4 linked regions of the Homo sapiens genome follow. The protein of the gene in region 1 interacts with the protein of each later gene in a pairwise test. Each region holds a gene or a part of one and is shown in the gene's direction. Other genes may lie near its edges.

What was found. The genes of interacting proteins can lie anywhere in the genome.
Region 2: the proteins of JPH3 (region 1) and EIF3F interact in binary tests that used the Homo sapiens proteins (3 or more experiments, as listed by UniProt).
Region 3: the proteins of JPH3 (region 1) and ZNF500 interact in binary tests that used the Homo sapiens proteins (3 or more experiments, as listed by UniProt).
Region 4: the proteins of JPH3 (region 1) and PLB1 interact in binary tests that used the Homo sapiens proteins (3 or more experiments, as listed by UniProt).

The regions. Positions count from the first base shown.
Region 1 is NC_000016.10:87,689,507-87,693,175, forward strand, and holds part of JPH3 (junctophilin-3), read left to right. Parts: intron 1-139; coding exon 140-1,020; intron 1,021-3,669. UniProt on the Homo sapiens protein: Junctophilins contribute to the formation of junctional membrane complexes (JMCs) which link the plasma membrane with the endoplasmic or sarcoplasmic reticulum in excitable cells.
Region 2 is NC_000011.10:7,985,706-7,990,168, forward strand, and holds the start of EIF3F (eukaryotic translation initiation factor 3 subunit F), read left to right. Parts: upstream 1-1,631; 5' UTR 1,632-1,647; coding exon 1,648-2,011; intron 2,012-4,463. UniProt on the Homo sapiens protein: Component of the eukaryotic translation initiation factor 3 (eIF-3) complex, which is required for several steps in the initiation of protein synthesis.
Region 3 is NC_000016.10:4,760,631-4,764,299, reverse strand, and holds part of ZNF500 (zinc finger protein 500), read left to right. Parts: intron 1-10; exon of another isoform or gene 11-627; coding exon of another isoform or gene 628-690; intron 691-1,543; coding exon 1,544-1,727; intron 1,728-1,964; coding exon 1,965-2,029; intron 2,030-3,669.
Region 4 is NC_000002.12:28,502,423-28,506,091, forward strand, and holds part of PLB1 (phospholipase B1, membrane-associated isoform 1 precursor), read left to right. Parts: intron 1-3,669. UniProt on the Homo sapiens protein: Calcium-independent membrane-associated phospholipase that catalyzes complete diacylation of phospholipids by hydrolyzing both sn-1 and sn-2 fatty acyl chains attached to the glycerol backbone (phospholipase B activity).

The DNA.
Region 1 (3,669 bases):
CTTGCCTGCAGCCTTTCGGTGAGTGGGAAGCGCCTCTGCTGCCCTGAGGTTCCCTCTGGCGCCCTGGCCCGGGGACCGCGGCCTCGCTGTGGAATGTGCTGGGTAACGCCGTCTGGCGTCGTCTTGTGTCCCCATACAGGGCTGGAGTACCAGAGGCCGAAGCGTCAGACCTCCTGTGACGACATCGAGGTGCTGTCCACCGGGACACCCCTGCAGCAGGAGAGCCCCGAGCTGTACCGCAAGGGCACCACTCCCTCCGACCTGACCCCCGACGACAGCCCCCTGCAGAGCTTCCCCACCAGCCCCGCGGCCACCCCGCCGCCCGCGCCCGCCGCCAGGAACAAGGTCGCCCACTTCTCGAGGCAGGTGTCGGTGGACGAGGAGCGGGGCGGGGACATCCAGATGCTCCTGGAGGGCCGGGCCGGGGACTGCGCCCGCAGCAGCTGGGGCGAGGAGCAGGCCGGGGGCTCCAGGGGTGTCCGCAGCGGTGCCCTGCGCGGCGGCCTGCTCGTGGATGACTTCCGCACCCGAGGTTCGGGCCGCAAGCAGCCCGGGAACCCCAAGCCGCGGGAGCGGCGGACGGAGTCACCCCCCGTGTTCACGTGGACTTCCCACCACCGGGCCAGCAACCACAGCCCCGGAGGCTCCAGGCTGCTGGAGCTGCAGGAGGAGAAGCTGAGCAACTACCGGATGGAGATGAAACCCTTGCTGAGGATGGAGACGCATCCCCAGAAAAGACGCTACAGCAAGGGCGGCGCCTGCCGGGGCTTGGGGGACGACCACCGCCCCGAGGACCGGGGCTTCGGGGTGCAGAGACTGCGGTCCAAGGCCCAGAACAAGGAGAACTTCAGGCCGGCCTCCTCCGCGGAGCCCGCCGTGCAGAAACTGGCGAGCCTGCGGCTGGGCGGGGCCGAGCCCCGGTTGCTGCGTTGGGACTTGACCTTCTCCCCGCCCCAGAAATCCTTGCCTGTCGCTCTAGAGTCCGACGAGGAGAATGGGGATGAGCTCAAGTCCAGTACGGTGAGTGGGCGGCCACCAGGCTGGTCCCAGTGGAGGCAACATCCACCTCTCTGCTGACCTGGTGTTTCCTGAGGGTTTCCAGCAAGGTCACTGCTCCCCTGTTCCTCTCCAGGGGTGGAGTAGGGTGGGGGTACAGCCGGGAGTGGTGGCCCTCAGGTCGCTGGGACCCTCCCCTAGGAAGCCAGGTGGGGCAGGTGTCATACCTCTTTCCGTGAGAGGCTGCCCCCAGGTTGTCCAGAAAGCACACGAAACTCCTGGTTTCCAGGCAGCATGGGATCCCTGCGCTCCCCGCAACGTGCTCAACCCCAGCTGCTCCAAGAGTCTGTGCCCCTGGTCAGTAGCCTTGGGCCGTGAGATGACCGCTTGAGTGTCCTGTGTCCTGGATAGGAACCCAGAGGCGAAACAGCTGGGGGCAAGGCTGGCCCTGGGGCTGGGAGTCAGGTCTGGGGTTGGGGGGAGCTGCCAGTCCAGGTTTCTCTCACCCATGGGGGGTGTTGGGGTTGGAGCCGGCTCCCACGTGAGGCCCGCTGTGTGCAACTCACCGTCAGCCTCACCCAGCACCCCCCCCCCAAATTCGTTCCTCCAGGGCAGGCAGCTTGGAGGGAAGAACAGCGTCCCCCTGGGCTAGACTCGGCGCGAGGCTGGGGGTCCCAGGCTAGACTCGGTGTGCGAGGCTGGGGGTCCTGGTGCCTCACACAGGGCTGGCCTCCCCTTGAAGGGACCTTCACTCTGCAAATCCCACCCTGCTCCCTTGACCAGTGCTGCAGGAATGAAGGGCTTTGGGAATGAAGGGCTGTGGGACGGTGGCTACATAGGATCTGCGCACGGCCAGGCCCTCACCCCAGCAGGGCTCTGCTCGCTCGTGGCTGCCAGGCAGTGCGTGGTGCTGAACAGAAGTGCTGCAAGCCAGTCTGCCCCTCGGGTGTGAGGACGCAGGGGGGTGTCCGCAGGGGGCGCTCAGGGCGTGTGGGCCGGGCAGGGGGGACCATTGGTAGGTTTATTGTCGACGCTGCGGCAGGGGTCGGTGTCTGTCCCTGCCCCTGACCTAGGGGAGCTGTGGTTTTCTCCTCCTGCCAGCCCCACCCCCAGAGGGGTCACCGCGTGACACCCCTTTGAAGGGGCACGTCCTGCCGGGCGGCAATGCCTGTTTCTGCCTCTCCTTGGAACCACTGCGGACGTCTGTCTGTCCTGTTGGGTTCCTAAGATGCCTCCCCGTTCCCCAAAGCCCACAGAGAACAGCCCCTATGCTCCTGCTGGGACCAAAATACCAGCTCACACTTACAACTTGATTTTCCCCATCGCAGCCGGAGATGTGTGCGTGGCTGTGCGCGCGCGGTTATTTTAGGAACAGCCAAGCAGTGGGCAGGGTGGGAGGTGTAGGGACGGGTTCTATTTTTAGCCTGCTTAATGCACTGACACTTTTGGGTGCTTTTAAATGAACCTCCCTGGGGGTCAATGCACAAGCTGGGGACAAGTGCCAAGCTGGCCTCTGGGATGAGTTAGCGACACGCAGGGTGCTACATGCTGCCCTGGTCCTGCCCGGTCTCCAGCTGGGGCTAATCTGGAGGTCCCGTCAGCTGCAGCATCATGTCCCACCCACCCTGGAGGATGCCAGCTGAGCTCCTTGGAAGTGGCCACCCTGGGGTACCTGGTGCTGGTGCAAACAAGGTTTCCCTCCCTGTCTCCCTCCCCGTCTCCCTCCCCACAGCTTTGGAGCTGTGTTTTCTGCCAGGTCTGTGAGGGGAGATGGTGTGTAGAGGCGCGGTCAATCCTAAGCACTGTTCCAGGCCCTGTTGGTGGGAAGCAGGAGGGGCCCGTGCCAGCCGGCATCCATGTCAGGGGACAGGTGTCAGGGCAGTCGGGTGCCAGGCTGGGCTGAGTGCCTTCAGTGCCACCCCCTCACAGGGGTACAGCTCTCTGCAGTGTCTCCCCTGGGCCACCAGCAGGGTCTGGGGTGCTGTCTTCTGGCCATCCCCCTCCACCATTCCCAACATGCTGCAGAGCTCACACGCCAGAGGCCCTGGGTCCCACTGGCCACAGATGGGCCTGGGATTCTAGCCCACATAGGGTCCCACTGGCCACAGATGGGCCTGGGATTCTGGCCCGTGTAGGGCCCTGGCAATTCAGGGTAAAGTCCCTTAGGATGGAAGCACAGGTTCTCCCTACCGCTCTACTGGTGAAGGAACTCTGGCCCTGGCTGTTTCCCTCTTGGTGAAATGATGGATATGACCTGATGGTGGGGTCCAGGGTTGGAGGATGGCTGGGGAGACAGAAGCTTCCCTCCTGCGGGCAGCCACGCCCTCGCCCACAGCGTCCGTACCTGCTTCCCGGCCCAGAGCACGGGCTGGACTGTGGCAGAAGAGGTGCCACTGACCACCCCACTCTGTCCTGCTACCCCACTACAGGCTGACTAGCATCCGGCCCTTCCTCCTCGCTGGGGTGGGGGAACTTTGCACCAGGGGTGGCATCAGTGGGCAGGGCTGGGCCCTTGGCTGTTCTCTGCCCCCTGCAGGCTGGCCCGGCCCAACCAAGTTGTCATGGGGCCCAAGACTCACAATACACCTGCCTGAGGCCACGATGCCACGGAAAGCTGGGCTCAGGGCAGCTTGCTTTCTCTCTGGCTGAGTGGAGGCCCTTGCTGTGTCCACA
Region 2 (4,463 bases), on another chromosome or scaffold:
TTAAAATATACTTGAAACACTGCCATCCTAAATTGGCTGCCTCTCAATCCTGCTGTTTCCCTGGCTATTTCCTTAAATGTCTCCTTTCCTTCCCAGAAAACTTCCTGAAAGAAAAGCTGGCACTTGCTGCTTTCAGTTCAGACTGGCCATTCTCTCACACCAGATTTCTAGTTTCTGTGCCCACCCCACCCTCAGTCCCACTGACGTTGCTCTACTAGGGTTGCTAAAGACTCCAGGTCATCAAATCCAAGAGTTACTTTTCAATCTTCTTCTGTTTGGCTGTTCACCTTTGTTTTGGTGAAAGAAAGAATGCATGTCTACACAGAGCATTTACAGGGGAGCAGCGTCATGTGAATTCTAATAATGGAAGATTTCTCCAAGGAGAAATCAACTCTTGGGCACAGAATCAGGGATAAGAAGTTCAACCTCACCTATCCACTTGCCAGCTGGACACTAGGACTTGACCTAATTAAGGGAGTTGACAGTTTTTTTGGTGTTTTGTTTTGTCTTTACAAGCAGATGTTATCACCCCATTATACCAAGAAGGAAATTGAGGCTCAGAAAAAACTTGTAGATTGCCCCAAGTTACACAGTGGGTTATGGTCAGAGCTCCCTCCATCACATAGTGATAATAGCTATGACTTAATAACTACTGTATATCAGGCATGTGCTAAGAGCTTTACAAGGCAATACCTCATATAATCCTCTCCTAAAGTACAGACTAGTTTATACACCTTATTACAACTCCACTTGAATGTGTAATGGACATCTCAAAGGTGACACATTCAGAAATGAAATCAGGATCTTTTCCCCAAAACCTGCTCTACCTACAGCTTTTGCTATCTCAATTGATGGTGACTTCATCCTACTAATCGCTCAGTACAAAAAAAAAAAAAAAAAATTGCAGTCCTCCTTGACTCCTCTCTTTCACACCTCATATACAATTTCTCAGGAAACCCTATTGAAACTACCTTCAAAATATATCCATAATCTTCCCACTTCTCAGAACTTCTACTGCTACCAGCCTGGTCCCAGCCACCATCATCTCTCACTTAGATTACCTAGTGGCCTCCCAGCAGGTCTCCCTGCTTTTCCCTCTCTCGCCTCCCTCTCCTCACCTCCCCTCACCCTCCAGTCTCTTCTCAAAGCAGCAGGAGAAATCCAGCTAAGTTCTCCTTCTCGCCCATTGCAGCCTCGAGCTTCTGGGCTCAAACGATCCTTCCGCCTCGGTCTCCCGAAGTGCTGAGATTACAGGCGTGAGCCACCGCGCCTGGCCTTAAAATCCTTTTTAAAGGCACTTTGACATCCATTATCTCATTTAAGTCTAAAACACGAATTTCGACCTCCGCGCTGCTTTCTGGTTCCACCTGGCGGCAGCTGCACAAAGTGTTTCTCTTCGAACGCCGTCCCAAGTTTTACCCGGAACTACTTAGCCCAGGGTTTCCTGAGTGCTCCTCGGGCCAAAAGCAGAGCGCACAAATTCCAGAAGAAATTACCAACGGCGGGACTATTTCAGTGCTCCGAGAAGTATCACCAGTAACCAATCAGCAAAAAGCTCTAGCTCACGTGGTGTATATTCAGCCTATCAAGCTCCTGATATTCATGAATGCTGTCATTTCCGCTTCCGCCTCCTTCTTTCTCGACAAGATGGCCACACCGGCGGTACCAGTAAGTGCTCCTCCGGCCACGCCAACCCCAGTCCCGGCGGCGGCCCCAGCCTCAGTTCCAGCGCCAACGCCAGCACCGGCTGCGGCTCCGGTTCCCGCTGCGGCTCCAGCCTCATCCTCAGACCCTGCGGCAGCAGCGGCTGCAACTGCGGCTCCTGGCCAGACCCCGGCCTCAGCGCAAGCTCCAGCGCAGACCCCAGCGCCCGCTCTGCCTGGTCCTGCTCTTCCAGGGCCCTTCCCCGGCGGCCGCGTGGTCAGGCTGCACCCAGTCATTTTGGCCTCCATTGTGGACAGCTACGAGAGACGCAACGAGGGTGCTGCCCGAGTTATCGGGACCCTGTTGGGTGAGTGGTCAGAGAAAGTTAACATTCTTTTCTTCCTCCCACTTCTCATTTATCTCACTCCCCTAACTCATTAATTCTTTAATTCCTGGTGTCCTACCGTCCTTTCCTCCCATCCCCAATGACCTCTTAATCTATATCTGCATCCTACCTTTTGCTGTGACTTATCTTCTCAAGCACTTGCATCTCTCCTCTCTCTCCTGCCGGATTGCTGTCACTTTAAGCGACATAAAATACACAAGGAGTAGTTGTGTCATTTACTGAATATTTTATGCCAGTGGTTTACATTTATGCCAGTGGTTTACATTTTACATAAACAGCAGTTTATGGCAAGTATGATGGGCTGCATCTACCAAAAATGAGTTCACACGCCGAGTGGGAAGTCAGGAACCCTTGACTCCCTATACCAGTGACCACATATTTCTCCCTTATCCACTGACTAAATGTCATCGTTTTCCAGGTATTGACAAAGTTTTCTAACCAGTTGTCAAAGGAGTGGGGACGTTTGTAAAAAAACATTCCTCCCAACAAGTAAACCGGTTTGGTTGGAACCCGCTTGGGATTTTATAGTGTTCTGCTGTCCTAAACGTCTGAGCCTGATCTGTGTCCCTCAGTGTCCCCTAATATTAGTACCTAATGTGAGAAACCCTGTTCCCCCATTTTGCATTTGGACGCAAACAGTTGTATTATCTGTTTATATTTCTGCCCTTAACCTTCAGGTCGAAAAATGACCCATTCTCTGCCTGTGTTCCAAATTTGGGGAATAGATATTTTATGTTAAAGTAGTTTGTAAAATGGAAAAGCACTAAAGAGGGATTGTTGATAATAAATTCCTTTCTGGAGACTATGCTGGTCCCATGAAATTCGTTTCCATTCCATCTTAGTGCCAGATTTTAAATAGCTTTGTGAATCCACTTTATTTACAAGCATTCTTTCTCTTTCATACTCTTGAACATCTACTAGTTCTTACACCATAGAAGACAGTTGGTATATTGCAAAGCAGACAAGATTTGTAAGCAGACCTCACAAAACATTTGCCATGTGACTTGGGGCAGATTACCTAAAATCTGTTCTGTCAGGAGCTACTTTAGACTTAGTCTTTGTGAGAGCTAAATTAAAAACTTCTGACTATGCTGGCACACATTAGGTACAGCTGTTAGTTGCCATTCACATCAGGCCTGGACCACCCCAATGCATACAGACACACATTTTCTCTCCTTTATCTATCTTTGACGGTATAGCATTTTACAGAAACTTAAATTCATATCTTCTGAACATTGCTTGTCTTTTCTCAGACCAAGCTTTTGCGTTCTCTTTGCCACAAGTGCTTTTCCTGCTGTCCTTCATTTGTTTAAGCTCTACCTACCTTCCACGTTCCCAGCAACAGCATTAAGTGCCGGTCCTCCATCCCATACCCGGACCCTCACTCCATTCTTAACCTTCCACAGCATGATGGTGTTCTGTAACTGTGCCCTGCTCTGAGCTTCTGTAATAAATTATTTTTGCATCACTGACTTGACACTCAGCAAATACTTACTCTTTTGGCTGCACTTTCTAATTTTCCAAGCTCGCTAAAGCTATTTAAAGAAACTAATTCATTACCCATGATTTATGCTTTAGCGCCCCAAATATTCCAGTGATCCAGTCAGACCAGGTATAATCTAATCTACATCCTCAGATCCTCTTCCAGACTGGAATCATGGTACAGTGCTATAGGTGTTATAGAGGCAATACTTACAGAAGAATAAAGAATAGATTCTGCTTGCTATGAACTTATTTCCTTAGATATACACAAAACATTTCATTTGTCTAAATGAAGTCATTGGTGCTTTTTTTGTACCATAAAACTGTTAAGGTATTTAGAATTCAAAGTGTAATAAAGTGAGCTCTCCTGTAACCTTAAACTCAAGATAGAAGTGTACTCTTAAATGCAAATAATTAGAATGTAATATGATAAATGTTCCAATAGAAGGGTGTCATGGTGGCATGGAAATGCAGAAGACTTAACTATTTCAGAAGGTTGGGGAAAAGTTCACAAAAAAGATGACGTTTGAGCTGGGCATTAAAGCAACTACAAGAAGTATAAAAAAGCCTGGTAAATCCACTGTCTGAAACATTCAGTATTACAGGAATGTAGGTGACAGGAGGTAGAGCAGGAAATGAAGCTAGCAGAGGGCAGAGCCCTAAGAAGTATTAAATAATTACAAATGTAAAGTGCTGTGAAGGGAATTACCTGGATCCCTGAGAAGACAAAATGAAAGTCTAACCTCATTTGAAGCTCTTTGGGGAAGCTCCTGAGCATTTCAGCTAACACTGAATAGGAATTAAAAATCACTCTGGAATGAGTGAGTTGAGAGATAGGAAATAAAGTTGACAGGACATGGTGTGATCAGAAGTGAGGGATTAGAAGAAAATATCAGGGATGACTTCTACATCTTTGGTTAAGTGTGAAAGA
Region 3 (3,669 bases), about 83 Mb from region 1:
CCTGCCTTGGCCTCCCAAAGTGCTGGGATTACAGGCATGAGCCACTGTGCCCGGCCACTGTGTAGAATGTTAAATTAGTTCCTCAGTCACACTGACCACCTCTCAAGGGCTCAGTCGTCACACATGGCCAGTGGCTACTGTACTGGATGGCACAGACAGGACCCTTCTGACACACCGAAATCTCTATAGACAGTGCCTCTCCACCTCCTTCCAGCCCCATTTGAAGGAGTAGAGGAAGCCTCTTACTCATTCCTGCTGCTTCAGTTTCAGTTGTGGAACTCCTTGAGATTAGAAAGAAGTCCTGCCACCTGCTGTTTCAGTTCATTTTTCAGGGCCTTGCGTGGATGGGGCACATGGGCAGTGCTGACCAGCTGCCTTTCTTCCTGTGGCAGTGCTGCTGGCTGCACACTGCTGGCCTTTTGCAGCCAACAGAGGAGGCACATCCCCTAATGCTTGACCACGGCGTGAGCTGACCGCAGTCAGAAAATCCTGCCATCGGGGTGGCCAAGAAATCGGGGTTTCTTCCCAGCCGGCCAGCCTCTTTCCTGGCCACCACAGCTTCAGTGTTTGGGGTTCCCGGCATGGCTTCCTTCTGTCACTGCACCGACACCTCTGCACACATGCCTCATGGCCATCACTGAGCTGAGAGGGGCAGGCTGTGCTCCCCAAGGGGACTACGCTCCCTTAGAGGTGTGGAATGTTGAATAAGAGGAAGCCTGAGATGGGTCCCTGACGCTGGGTTTGTAGTTGCCTAGGGATGTCTCTTGTCCAAGTGCTATTGCAGAGCTCAATTCTAAGACCCAATTTCATTCAACTCACCTTTCCTGGAATTAGGAAATAGATCATCTCAGAGCACCTGTTGATAATTTCTTTTTTTTTTCTTTTTTTTTTTTTCTTCCCTGAGATGGAGTCTCGCTCTTTTGCCCAGGCTGGAGTGCAGTGGCACGATCTCGGCTCACTGCAACCTGTACTTCCCGAGTTCAAGCGATTCTCCTGCCTCAGCCTCCCAAGTACCTGGGATTACAAGCGTGCTGCCACCATGCCTGGCTAATTTTTGTATTTTTAGTAGAGATGGGGTTTCACCATGTTGGTTAGGCTGGTCTCGAACTCCTGGCCTCAGGTGATCCACCCACCTCGGCCTCCCAAAGTGCTGGAATTACAGGTGTGAGCCATTGCAGCTGGCCAGATAATTTCAAAAAATCTAGCAAATGCAGTTCTGTGAACTTCTGAAATTAGTCCAGCGCTGACTCAGGGCTCTTCTGGCCCAGGGTCTATCCCAGGGTCTATCAGGAGGACCAAGGAATAGAGGGTAAGAATGTGATGGGGAAACGATTGTGGTGACAGGGAGAGACCATGGAGTAGAGCAGGCTGGGAGCTGGCTGCAGGGAACACTGCCACACGGCTGGGCAGAGGGAGGGAGGCTGCAGACAGCCCGGGGGTGGGCAGCCGGCTGGGGTGCCTGAGATGAGGGGTGTGGGGCCCTGCGGGGATTTTTCCTTCTGGCCTTCTGGGAGCTGGTGGGGAGATCACTGTCTGTGTGCAGGGCTCAGAGCTGCTTTCTGATGACGAGGTGCCCCTCGGGATAGGGGGACAGTTCTTAAAACACCAGGCAGAGGCTCAGCCAGAGGATCTGTCCCTGGAGGAAGAGGCTCGATTCTCCAGCCAGCAGCCCCCAGCCCAGCTGAGCCACAGGCCACAGAGGGGCCCGCTGTTGTGGCCAGAGAGAGGTGAGTAGCACCCCTTTGGAGGAATGAGAAGTGGTGCAGGGGAGGGAGGTGAAGGTGACTGGGGTGTGGACTGTGGCCAGGGCAGAGGCCTGCCTGGATGCAGGGTGCACAGGCTCTCCAGCAAGGAGTGGATCTTGGGTGGGCAGCCGCCGGGCTGTTGGGGCCTTGGTGTGCAGGGGACGGCAGGGGCAGTACTGGGTGAGCTGTGTGACTGGTGGTGACTCTGCTCCTTCCCAGGCCCTCCAGCTCCCCGGCATCAGGAGATGGCGTCAGCCTCGCCCTTCCTTTCGGCCTGGTCCCAGGTGAGTGGGATGCTCCTGGTCTGCAGCATCCTGGGGTCTGGCCCGACCTCCTGTGTGTCACACTTCCTTGTTAAGGGGACACCTCTCCTGGGGGCCAAGGTTTTGGATGTCAGAGGAGCTCTTCCCTGGAGTTTTCTCCCTTTGCCCCAACCCTGGAGTCACTTCCCCTGGCCTCCTGGGAAGTCTTTTCTTCTCTCCAGAGGCCATTTAAGTACTCGGCTGTGCCCGGAAGATTCTGCGGTCCACCAGTGAGACAGGGTGGTGACTCCTACTCTGCTGGGCACAGGAATCTCTTGGGACTCTGGGGGAAAACACAGCTTCCTCCCACACCGCTGGGCTGGAATGGGAGTCTCCTTTGTTTGCTTGCTGGTTTTTTTGGGGTTTTTGTTTGTTTGTTTGTTTGTTTGTTTGTTTTGAGCCAAAGTCTGGCTCTGTGCTCACGCTGGAGTGCAGTAGTGTGATTACAGCTCACTGCAGCCTTGACCTCCCAGGCTCAAGGGATCCTCCTGCCTCAGCCTCCTCAGTTAGTTGGGACTACAGGCATGCACCACCACACCCGGCTAGTTGTTTTTTTTTTGTTTTTTTTTTAATGGGACACAGTCTCGCTGTGCTGCCTAGGCTGGTCTTGAACTCCTGGGCTCAAGTGATCCTCTTGCCTAAGTCTCCCAAAGCACTGGGATTACAGGCATAAGCCACCATGCCTGGCCTGTTTTATTTTTATTTATTTATTTATAATTTTTATATGTGTGTGTGTGTGTGTGTGTGTGTGTGTGTGTGTGTGTGTGTGTGTGTATGTATGTGTATTTGTTTTGTTTTGTTTTTGTTTTTTTGAGACAGAGTTTTGCTCTTGTTGCCCAGGCTGGAGTGCAATGGTGCGATCTCGGCTCACTGCAACCTCCGGCTCCCGGGTTCAAGCGATTTTCCTGCGTCAGCCTCCTGAGTAGCTGGGATTACAGGCACCCACCACCATGCCTGGCTAATTTTTTTTGTATTTTTAGTACAGATGGGGTTTCACCATGTTGGCCAGGCTGGTCTGGAGCTCCTGACCTCAGATGATCCACCTGCCTTGGCCTCCCAATGTGCTGGGATTACGGGTGTGAGCCACCGCGCCCGGCCGAACATTTCCTTTAGACCCTCCCCGAAAACCCCCTAGACTCATTACCAGAGTCTCTACCTGTTTTTCCCTCAGCCTCTGGCAACCACAAAGCTCCTTCTTGTCTCTGTGAATTTGCCTGTTCTGGAAAGAGTTTGCTTGTTTTTTTAATCATGCTTCCGGGTCAATCTGGTGCTACATCTGGGAGCCACTGGCCCAGAGGCATCCTGAAGTCCCCCGTCTGCCGCAATGGGGTCCTGGGGCTGGCTAGCCACGGAGCCAGGGGATGCTCTTGTCTCCCTGTGGAGCATGGGCCTCGGTGGCTGAGTGTGCAGTGGGTCCACCACTCCTCGTGGCGAATCTGTCCCTTCTCCGGTGGTGTCCCAGCTCTGCAGCAGTGGCACATGGGAGCAGTGGGCGGAGACACCAGGACTCACCACTGCAACGAGAGTGGAGAAGACCAGCTGCACCACCAGGCTTGGCGCCAGCCTCGAGGGGCAGTGGCGGTGCAGCTCCCTGGGCCAGTGGCCTTAGTTGGGGAGGAGGC
Region 4 (3,669 bases), on another chromosome or scaffold:
AGAAATTCATATTAAATTTTGTTAAAGGCCTTTTCAGCATGTATAGAAATAATCATATGATTATTTACCCTTAGATCTATTATGTTGAGTTATATTAATAGACTTGCTAATACTGAATGATCCATTGGGATTGTATACCCATTGCTGGCGTAAAATCAAGTTGATCATGGTGTATCTCTTTCCTTATATTGCTAGGCTTAGTTTGCTAACAATTGTTTCAGGTTATTTTTCTTATATGCCCATGAATGAGAGTGAGTTATAAGTTTCTTTTTTCTCTCTGCCCTTGCTGGATTTGGGTACCAATGTTTTACAGTCTCATAAAATGAATTTGGGAGTGTTCCTATTTTTCTGTTTTCTGGAATAGTTTGTAATAATAATGGATTTTTTTTCCTTTTAATGTTTGGTAGAACTTGCCAATGAAGCCATCTGGGCCTGGAATATTATTTTTTGGTAGATTTCTGACTACTGGTTCAATTTCTTTAGCACTTATAGAATTAGTCATATTTTATTTTTCTTAAATCCACTTTGGAAAGTTTTTTTTTCTAGGAATGTGTCCATTTCGAGTAAATTTGCAAGTGGTTTGGCATAAAATTTGTGTATGGTTTTCTGTTATCCCTTCAATACCTGTAGCTTCTGTAGTCATGTCCTTTTTGTTTCTGGTACTGATTATTTATGATTTATCTTACCAGAGGTTTGTCTACTTTATTATTTTTTTCAAACCAATTTTTTATTTTTATTTTTTATTTTTTGAGAAAGGTCTAACTCTGCTGTCCAGGTTGGAGTGCAGTGGCCTGATCACAGCTCACTGCTGCCTCGACCTCTGGGCCTCAAGAGTTGCTCTCTCTCCAGGCTCCCAAGTAGCTGGGACCACAGGTGCATACTACCACACCTGTTAATTAAAAAAAAAAAATTTGTAGGGAGGGAGTCTCACTATCTTTCCCAGGCTGGTCTTGAACTCCTAGGCTCAAGCTATCATCCAACAGCCTCTCAAAGTGTTGGGATTACAGGCATGAGCCACCATATCTGGCTTTTATTGATCTTCTATGTCACCGTTCTCTATTGAGGCATAGCAAACTACCCCCAAATCTCAGTGACTTACAGTAGCAACCACTTCATTTACTCACAGTTCTGTGAACCTGCAGCTTGGGAAGACTTCAGCAGAAACATCTCATCCCTGTTCCACATAGTATCATCTGGGATTGACTTGGTGGGTCCCAAATGAGATGTCTGGGGACTTGGTACTGGGACCTGGGTGTCTTCGTGTTCCCCTCCTTGGCCTTTGTTTCTGTATGCGCAGTCTGGACTTCTTTACATGGGGACCCAAGGTCCCAAAAGAGCACAAATAGAAGCCACAAAGCCTTCTAATGTCCGGTCCCCAAAGTCATTTCTGCTGCTTCTATGAGTCAATGCAAGTTTCTGTAGTAGCCTGGATTCAAGGTGAAGGAAATAGACGTTGCCTCTTGATGGGAAGAATGGCAAAAGTCACACTGCAAAAGGGCATACAGGATGAGACGAAATGCTGTGGCCATCTTTGGAAAAATATACCATCGTCTATATTGTATGTTTGTTTTCCAGTTCATTCATTTATGTAAATTTATCTTGCTTGGCCTTTTTAGCACATCCTGAATCTGTGGCTTGATTACTTCCATCAGTTTTGAAAAATTCTCAACCAGTATCTCTTGAAATGTTGCCTCTACTTGATTATTTCTGCCTTTTCCTTCTGGAATGCCAGCACAACGTTTGGCCTGCTCACTCCATGTACCATGTCTCTTCACCTCTCTACCAACTTTACCATCTTCTTGTCTTTCTACACTGCATTCTAAGTAATTTATTATGATACATCTTCTAGCTTATTCAGTCTCCTTCAGTTGCGTCTAATTTTCTGTTAAACCTGATCGTTGAAGATTTTGAAAATTGGTGATTTTATTTTTCAAATTTAACTTACATTTGGTTTCTTACCAAATTGGTAATTAAATAACTTTGGATTCCCATAAAAACTTCAAGTTTGTCTTATTTTAAAAAACATAGTCATTGTAAGGGCCAGGCGCAGTGGCTCACGTCTGTTATCCCAGCACTTTGGGAGGCTGAGGCAGGCAGATCACTTGAGGTCAGGAGTTCGAGACCAGCCTGGCCAACATGGTGAAACCCCATCTCTACTGAAAATACAAAAATTAGCTGGGTATGGTGGTGTGTGCCTGTAGTCCCGATACTCAGGAGGTTGAGGCAGGAGAATTACTTGAACCTGGGAGGTGGAGGTTGCAGTGAGCCGAGATTGGGCCACTACATTCCAGCCTGGGCAACAGAGCGAGACTCAGTCTCAAAAAAACAAAACAACAACAACAACAACAAAAATTCATTTTGAAATTTTACAATTTTGATGATTTTAGTATCCAAAGTCTTTGTGATCTGTTTCTTTTGTTCTCCTGCTGATTCTTGCTTATATGTACCTAATTTCTTTATGTACTATACCTGGTTATCTTTTATTGCATGGTGCTCAGACTCCTTGAAAATGTACTTATGAGATTCTTTGAGGCCTAGGATGAAGGTGAATGTCTTCAGAGAAGATATAAGTGTTCATTCTATTGGGCACTGGGGATGTTATCACATTTGAGGATCACTTCAAACTAAATTCATGGTGTGAGGCTCCCTAGAAAAACCAGGCTCTATGATAAGCACAGTTCATGTATAACAGCCTTCCTTTAAGATGGTCTGTGCTATTTTTCCCATTTTACAGATGAGAAAACTGAGAAGCTAGGTAACTTATCCAAAATCATCCAGCTAATTAGTACAGGAAGCTGAGGTCAGTCCTGAGCTTGGATCCAGGGCCAGCACCTTTCGCTACCTTACAGTATAATAGAGCTCGAGAGAAGAACCAAAATTAGACTTTTATTTAAACTTTTAAATGGACTCAACAAGCAATACATATGAAAACAGATTCCTGCTTTGAATGTTTTGGCTTATAAAACTGAAATATCATTAACTCAACTGCAGTCGGCAAAAGCAAGTTGGCAAGAAATCATTGTATCTAATAAATTACCATTTCTGCTAGAATTTTATTTTCCTCGAATGGGTCAGAAGTTCCCAGAAGATTGTCATGCCTGTGGGAAAAACTTGTTGCCTTGGTAACGTACCCATGACAGGCCTGTCAATGCAAAACCAACGGTGGGAGCTGGGTGAACTCATTGAGTGAGAAAAGGATACCTTTTCATTACTAAAACAAGCTAGGTAACATTTGTTTTGCAAGAGCCCAGGGTTCTTCCTGAAGGTTGGCTTTCCTTCCCTTCCTGCAGGAAGTTTTCCCAAGCCTTCTAGAAATACAGTCTTTCTAAATAAGAGTAGAAAGGGATATTTGAGAACTTTTGGTGGCCTGAGTCCTTCAAATTATTGATGCAAGATCAGGGAGAACCTGCTTGGGTCACACACCTAGTTGGTGGCATAGCCATCCCCGAATCTCTGGTGTTAGACTCTACATCCCAATGCCTCCATCCCCATCCCCAACCCTCACTTCACCTCACACACTTGTCTCCAAATGTCTGCTTTGGACACTGAGCACAGGTATGGGGTTTTCTCTAGAGGCTCAGAAGTTCTACTTTCCTGGGATGTCATCTGTGCCTTGTAGATTTCTAGGACTTTATTGTCAATCATCATTTCCATCAAGTTGCATTTTTG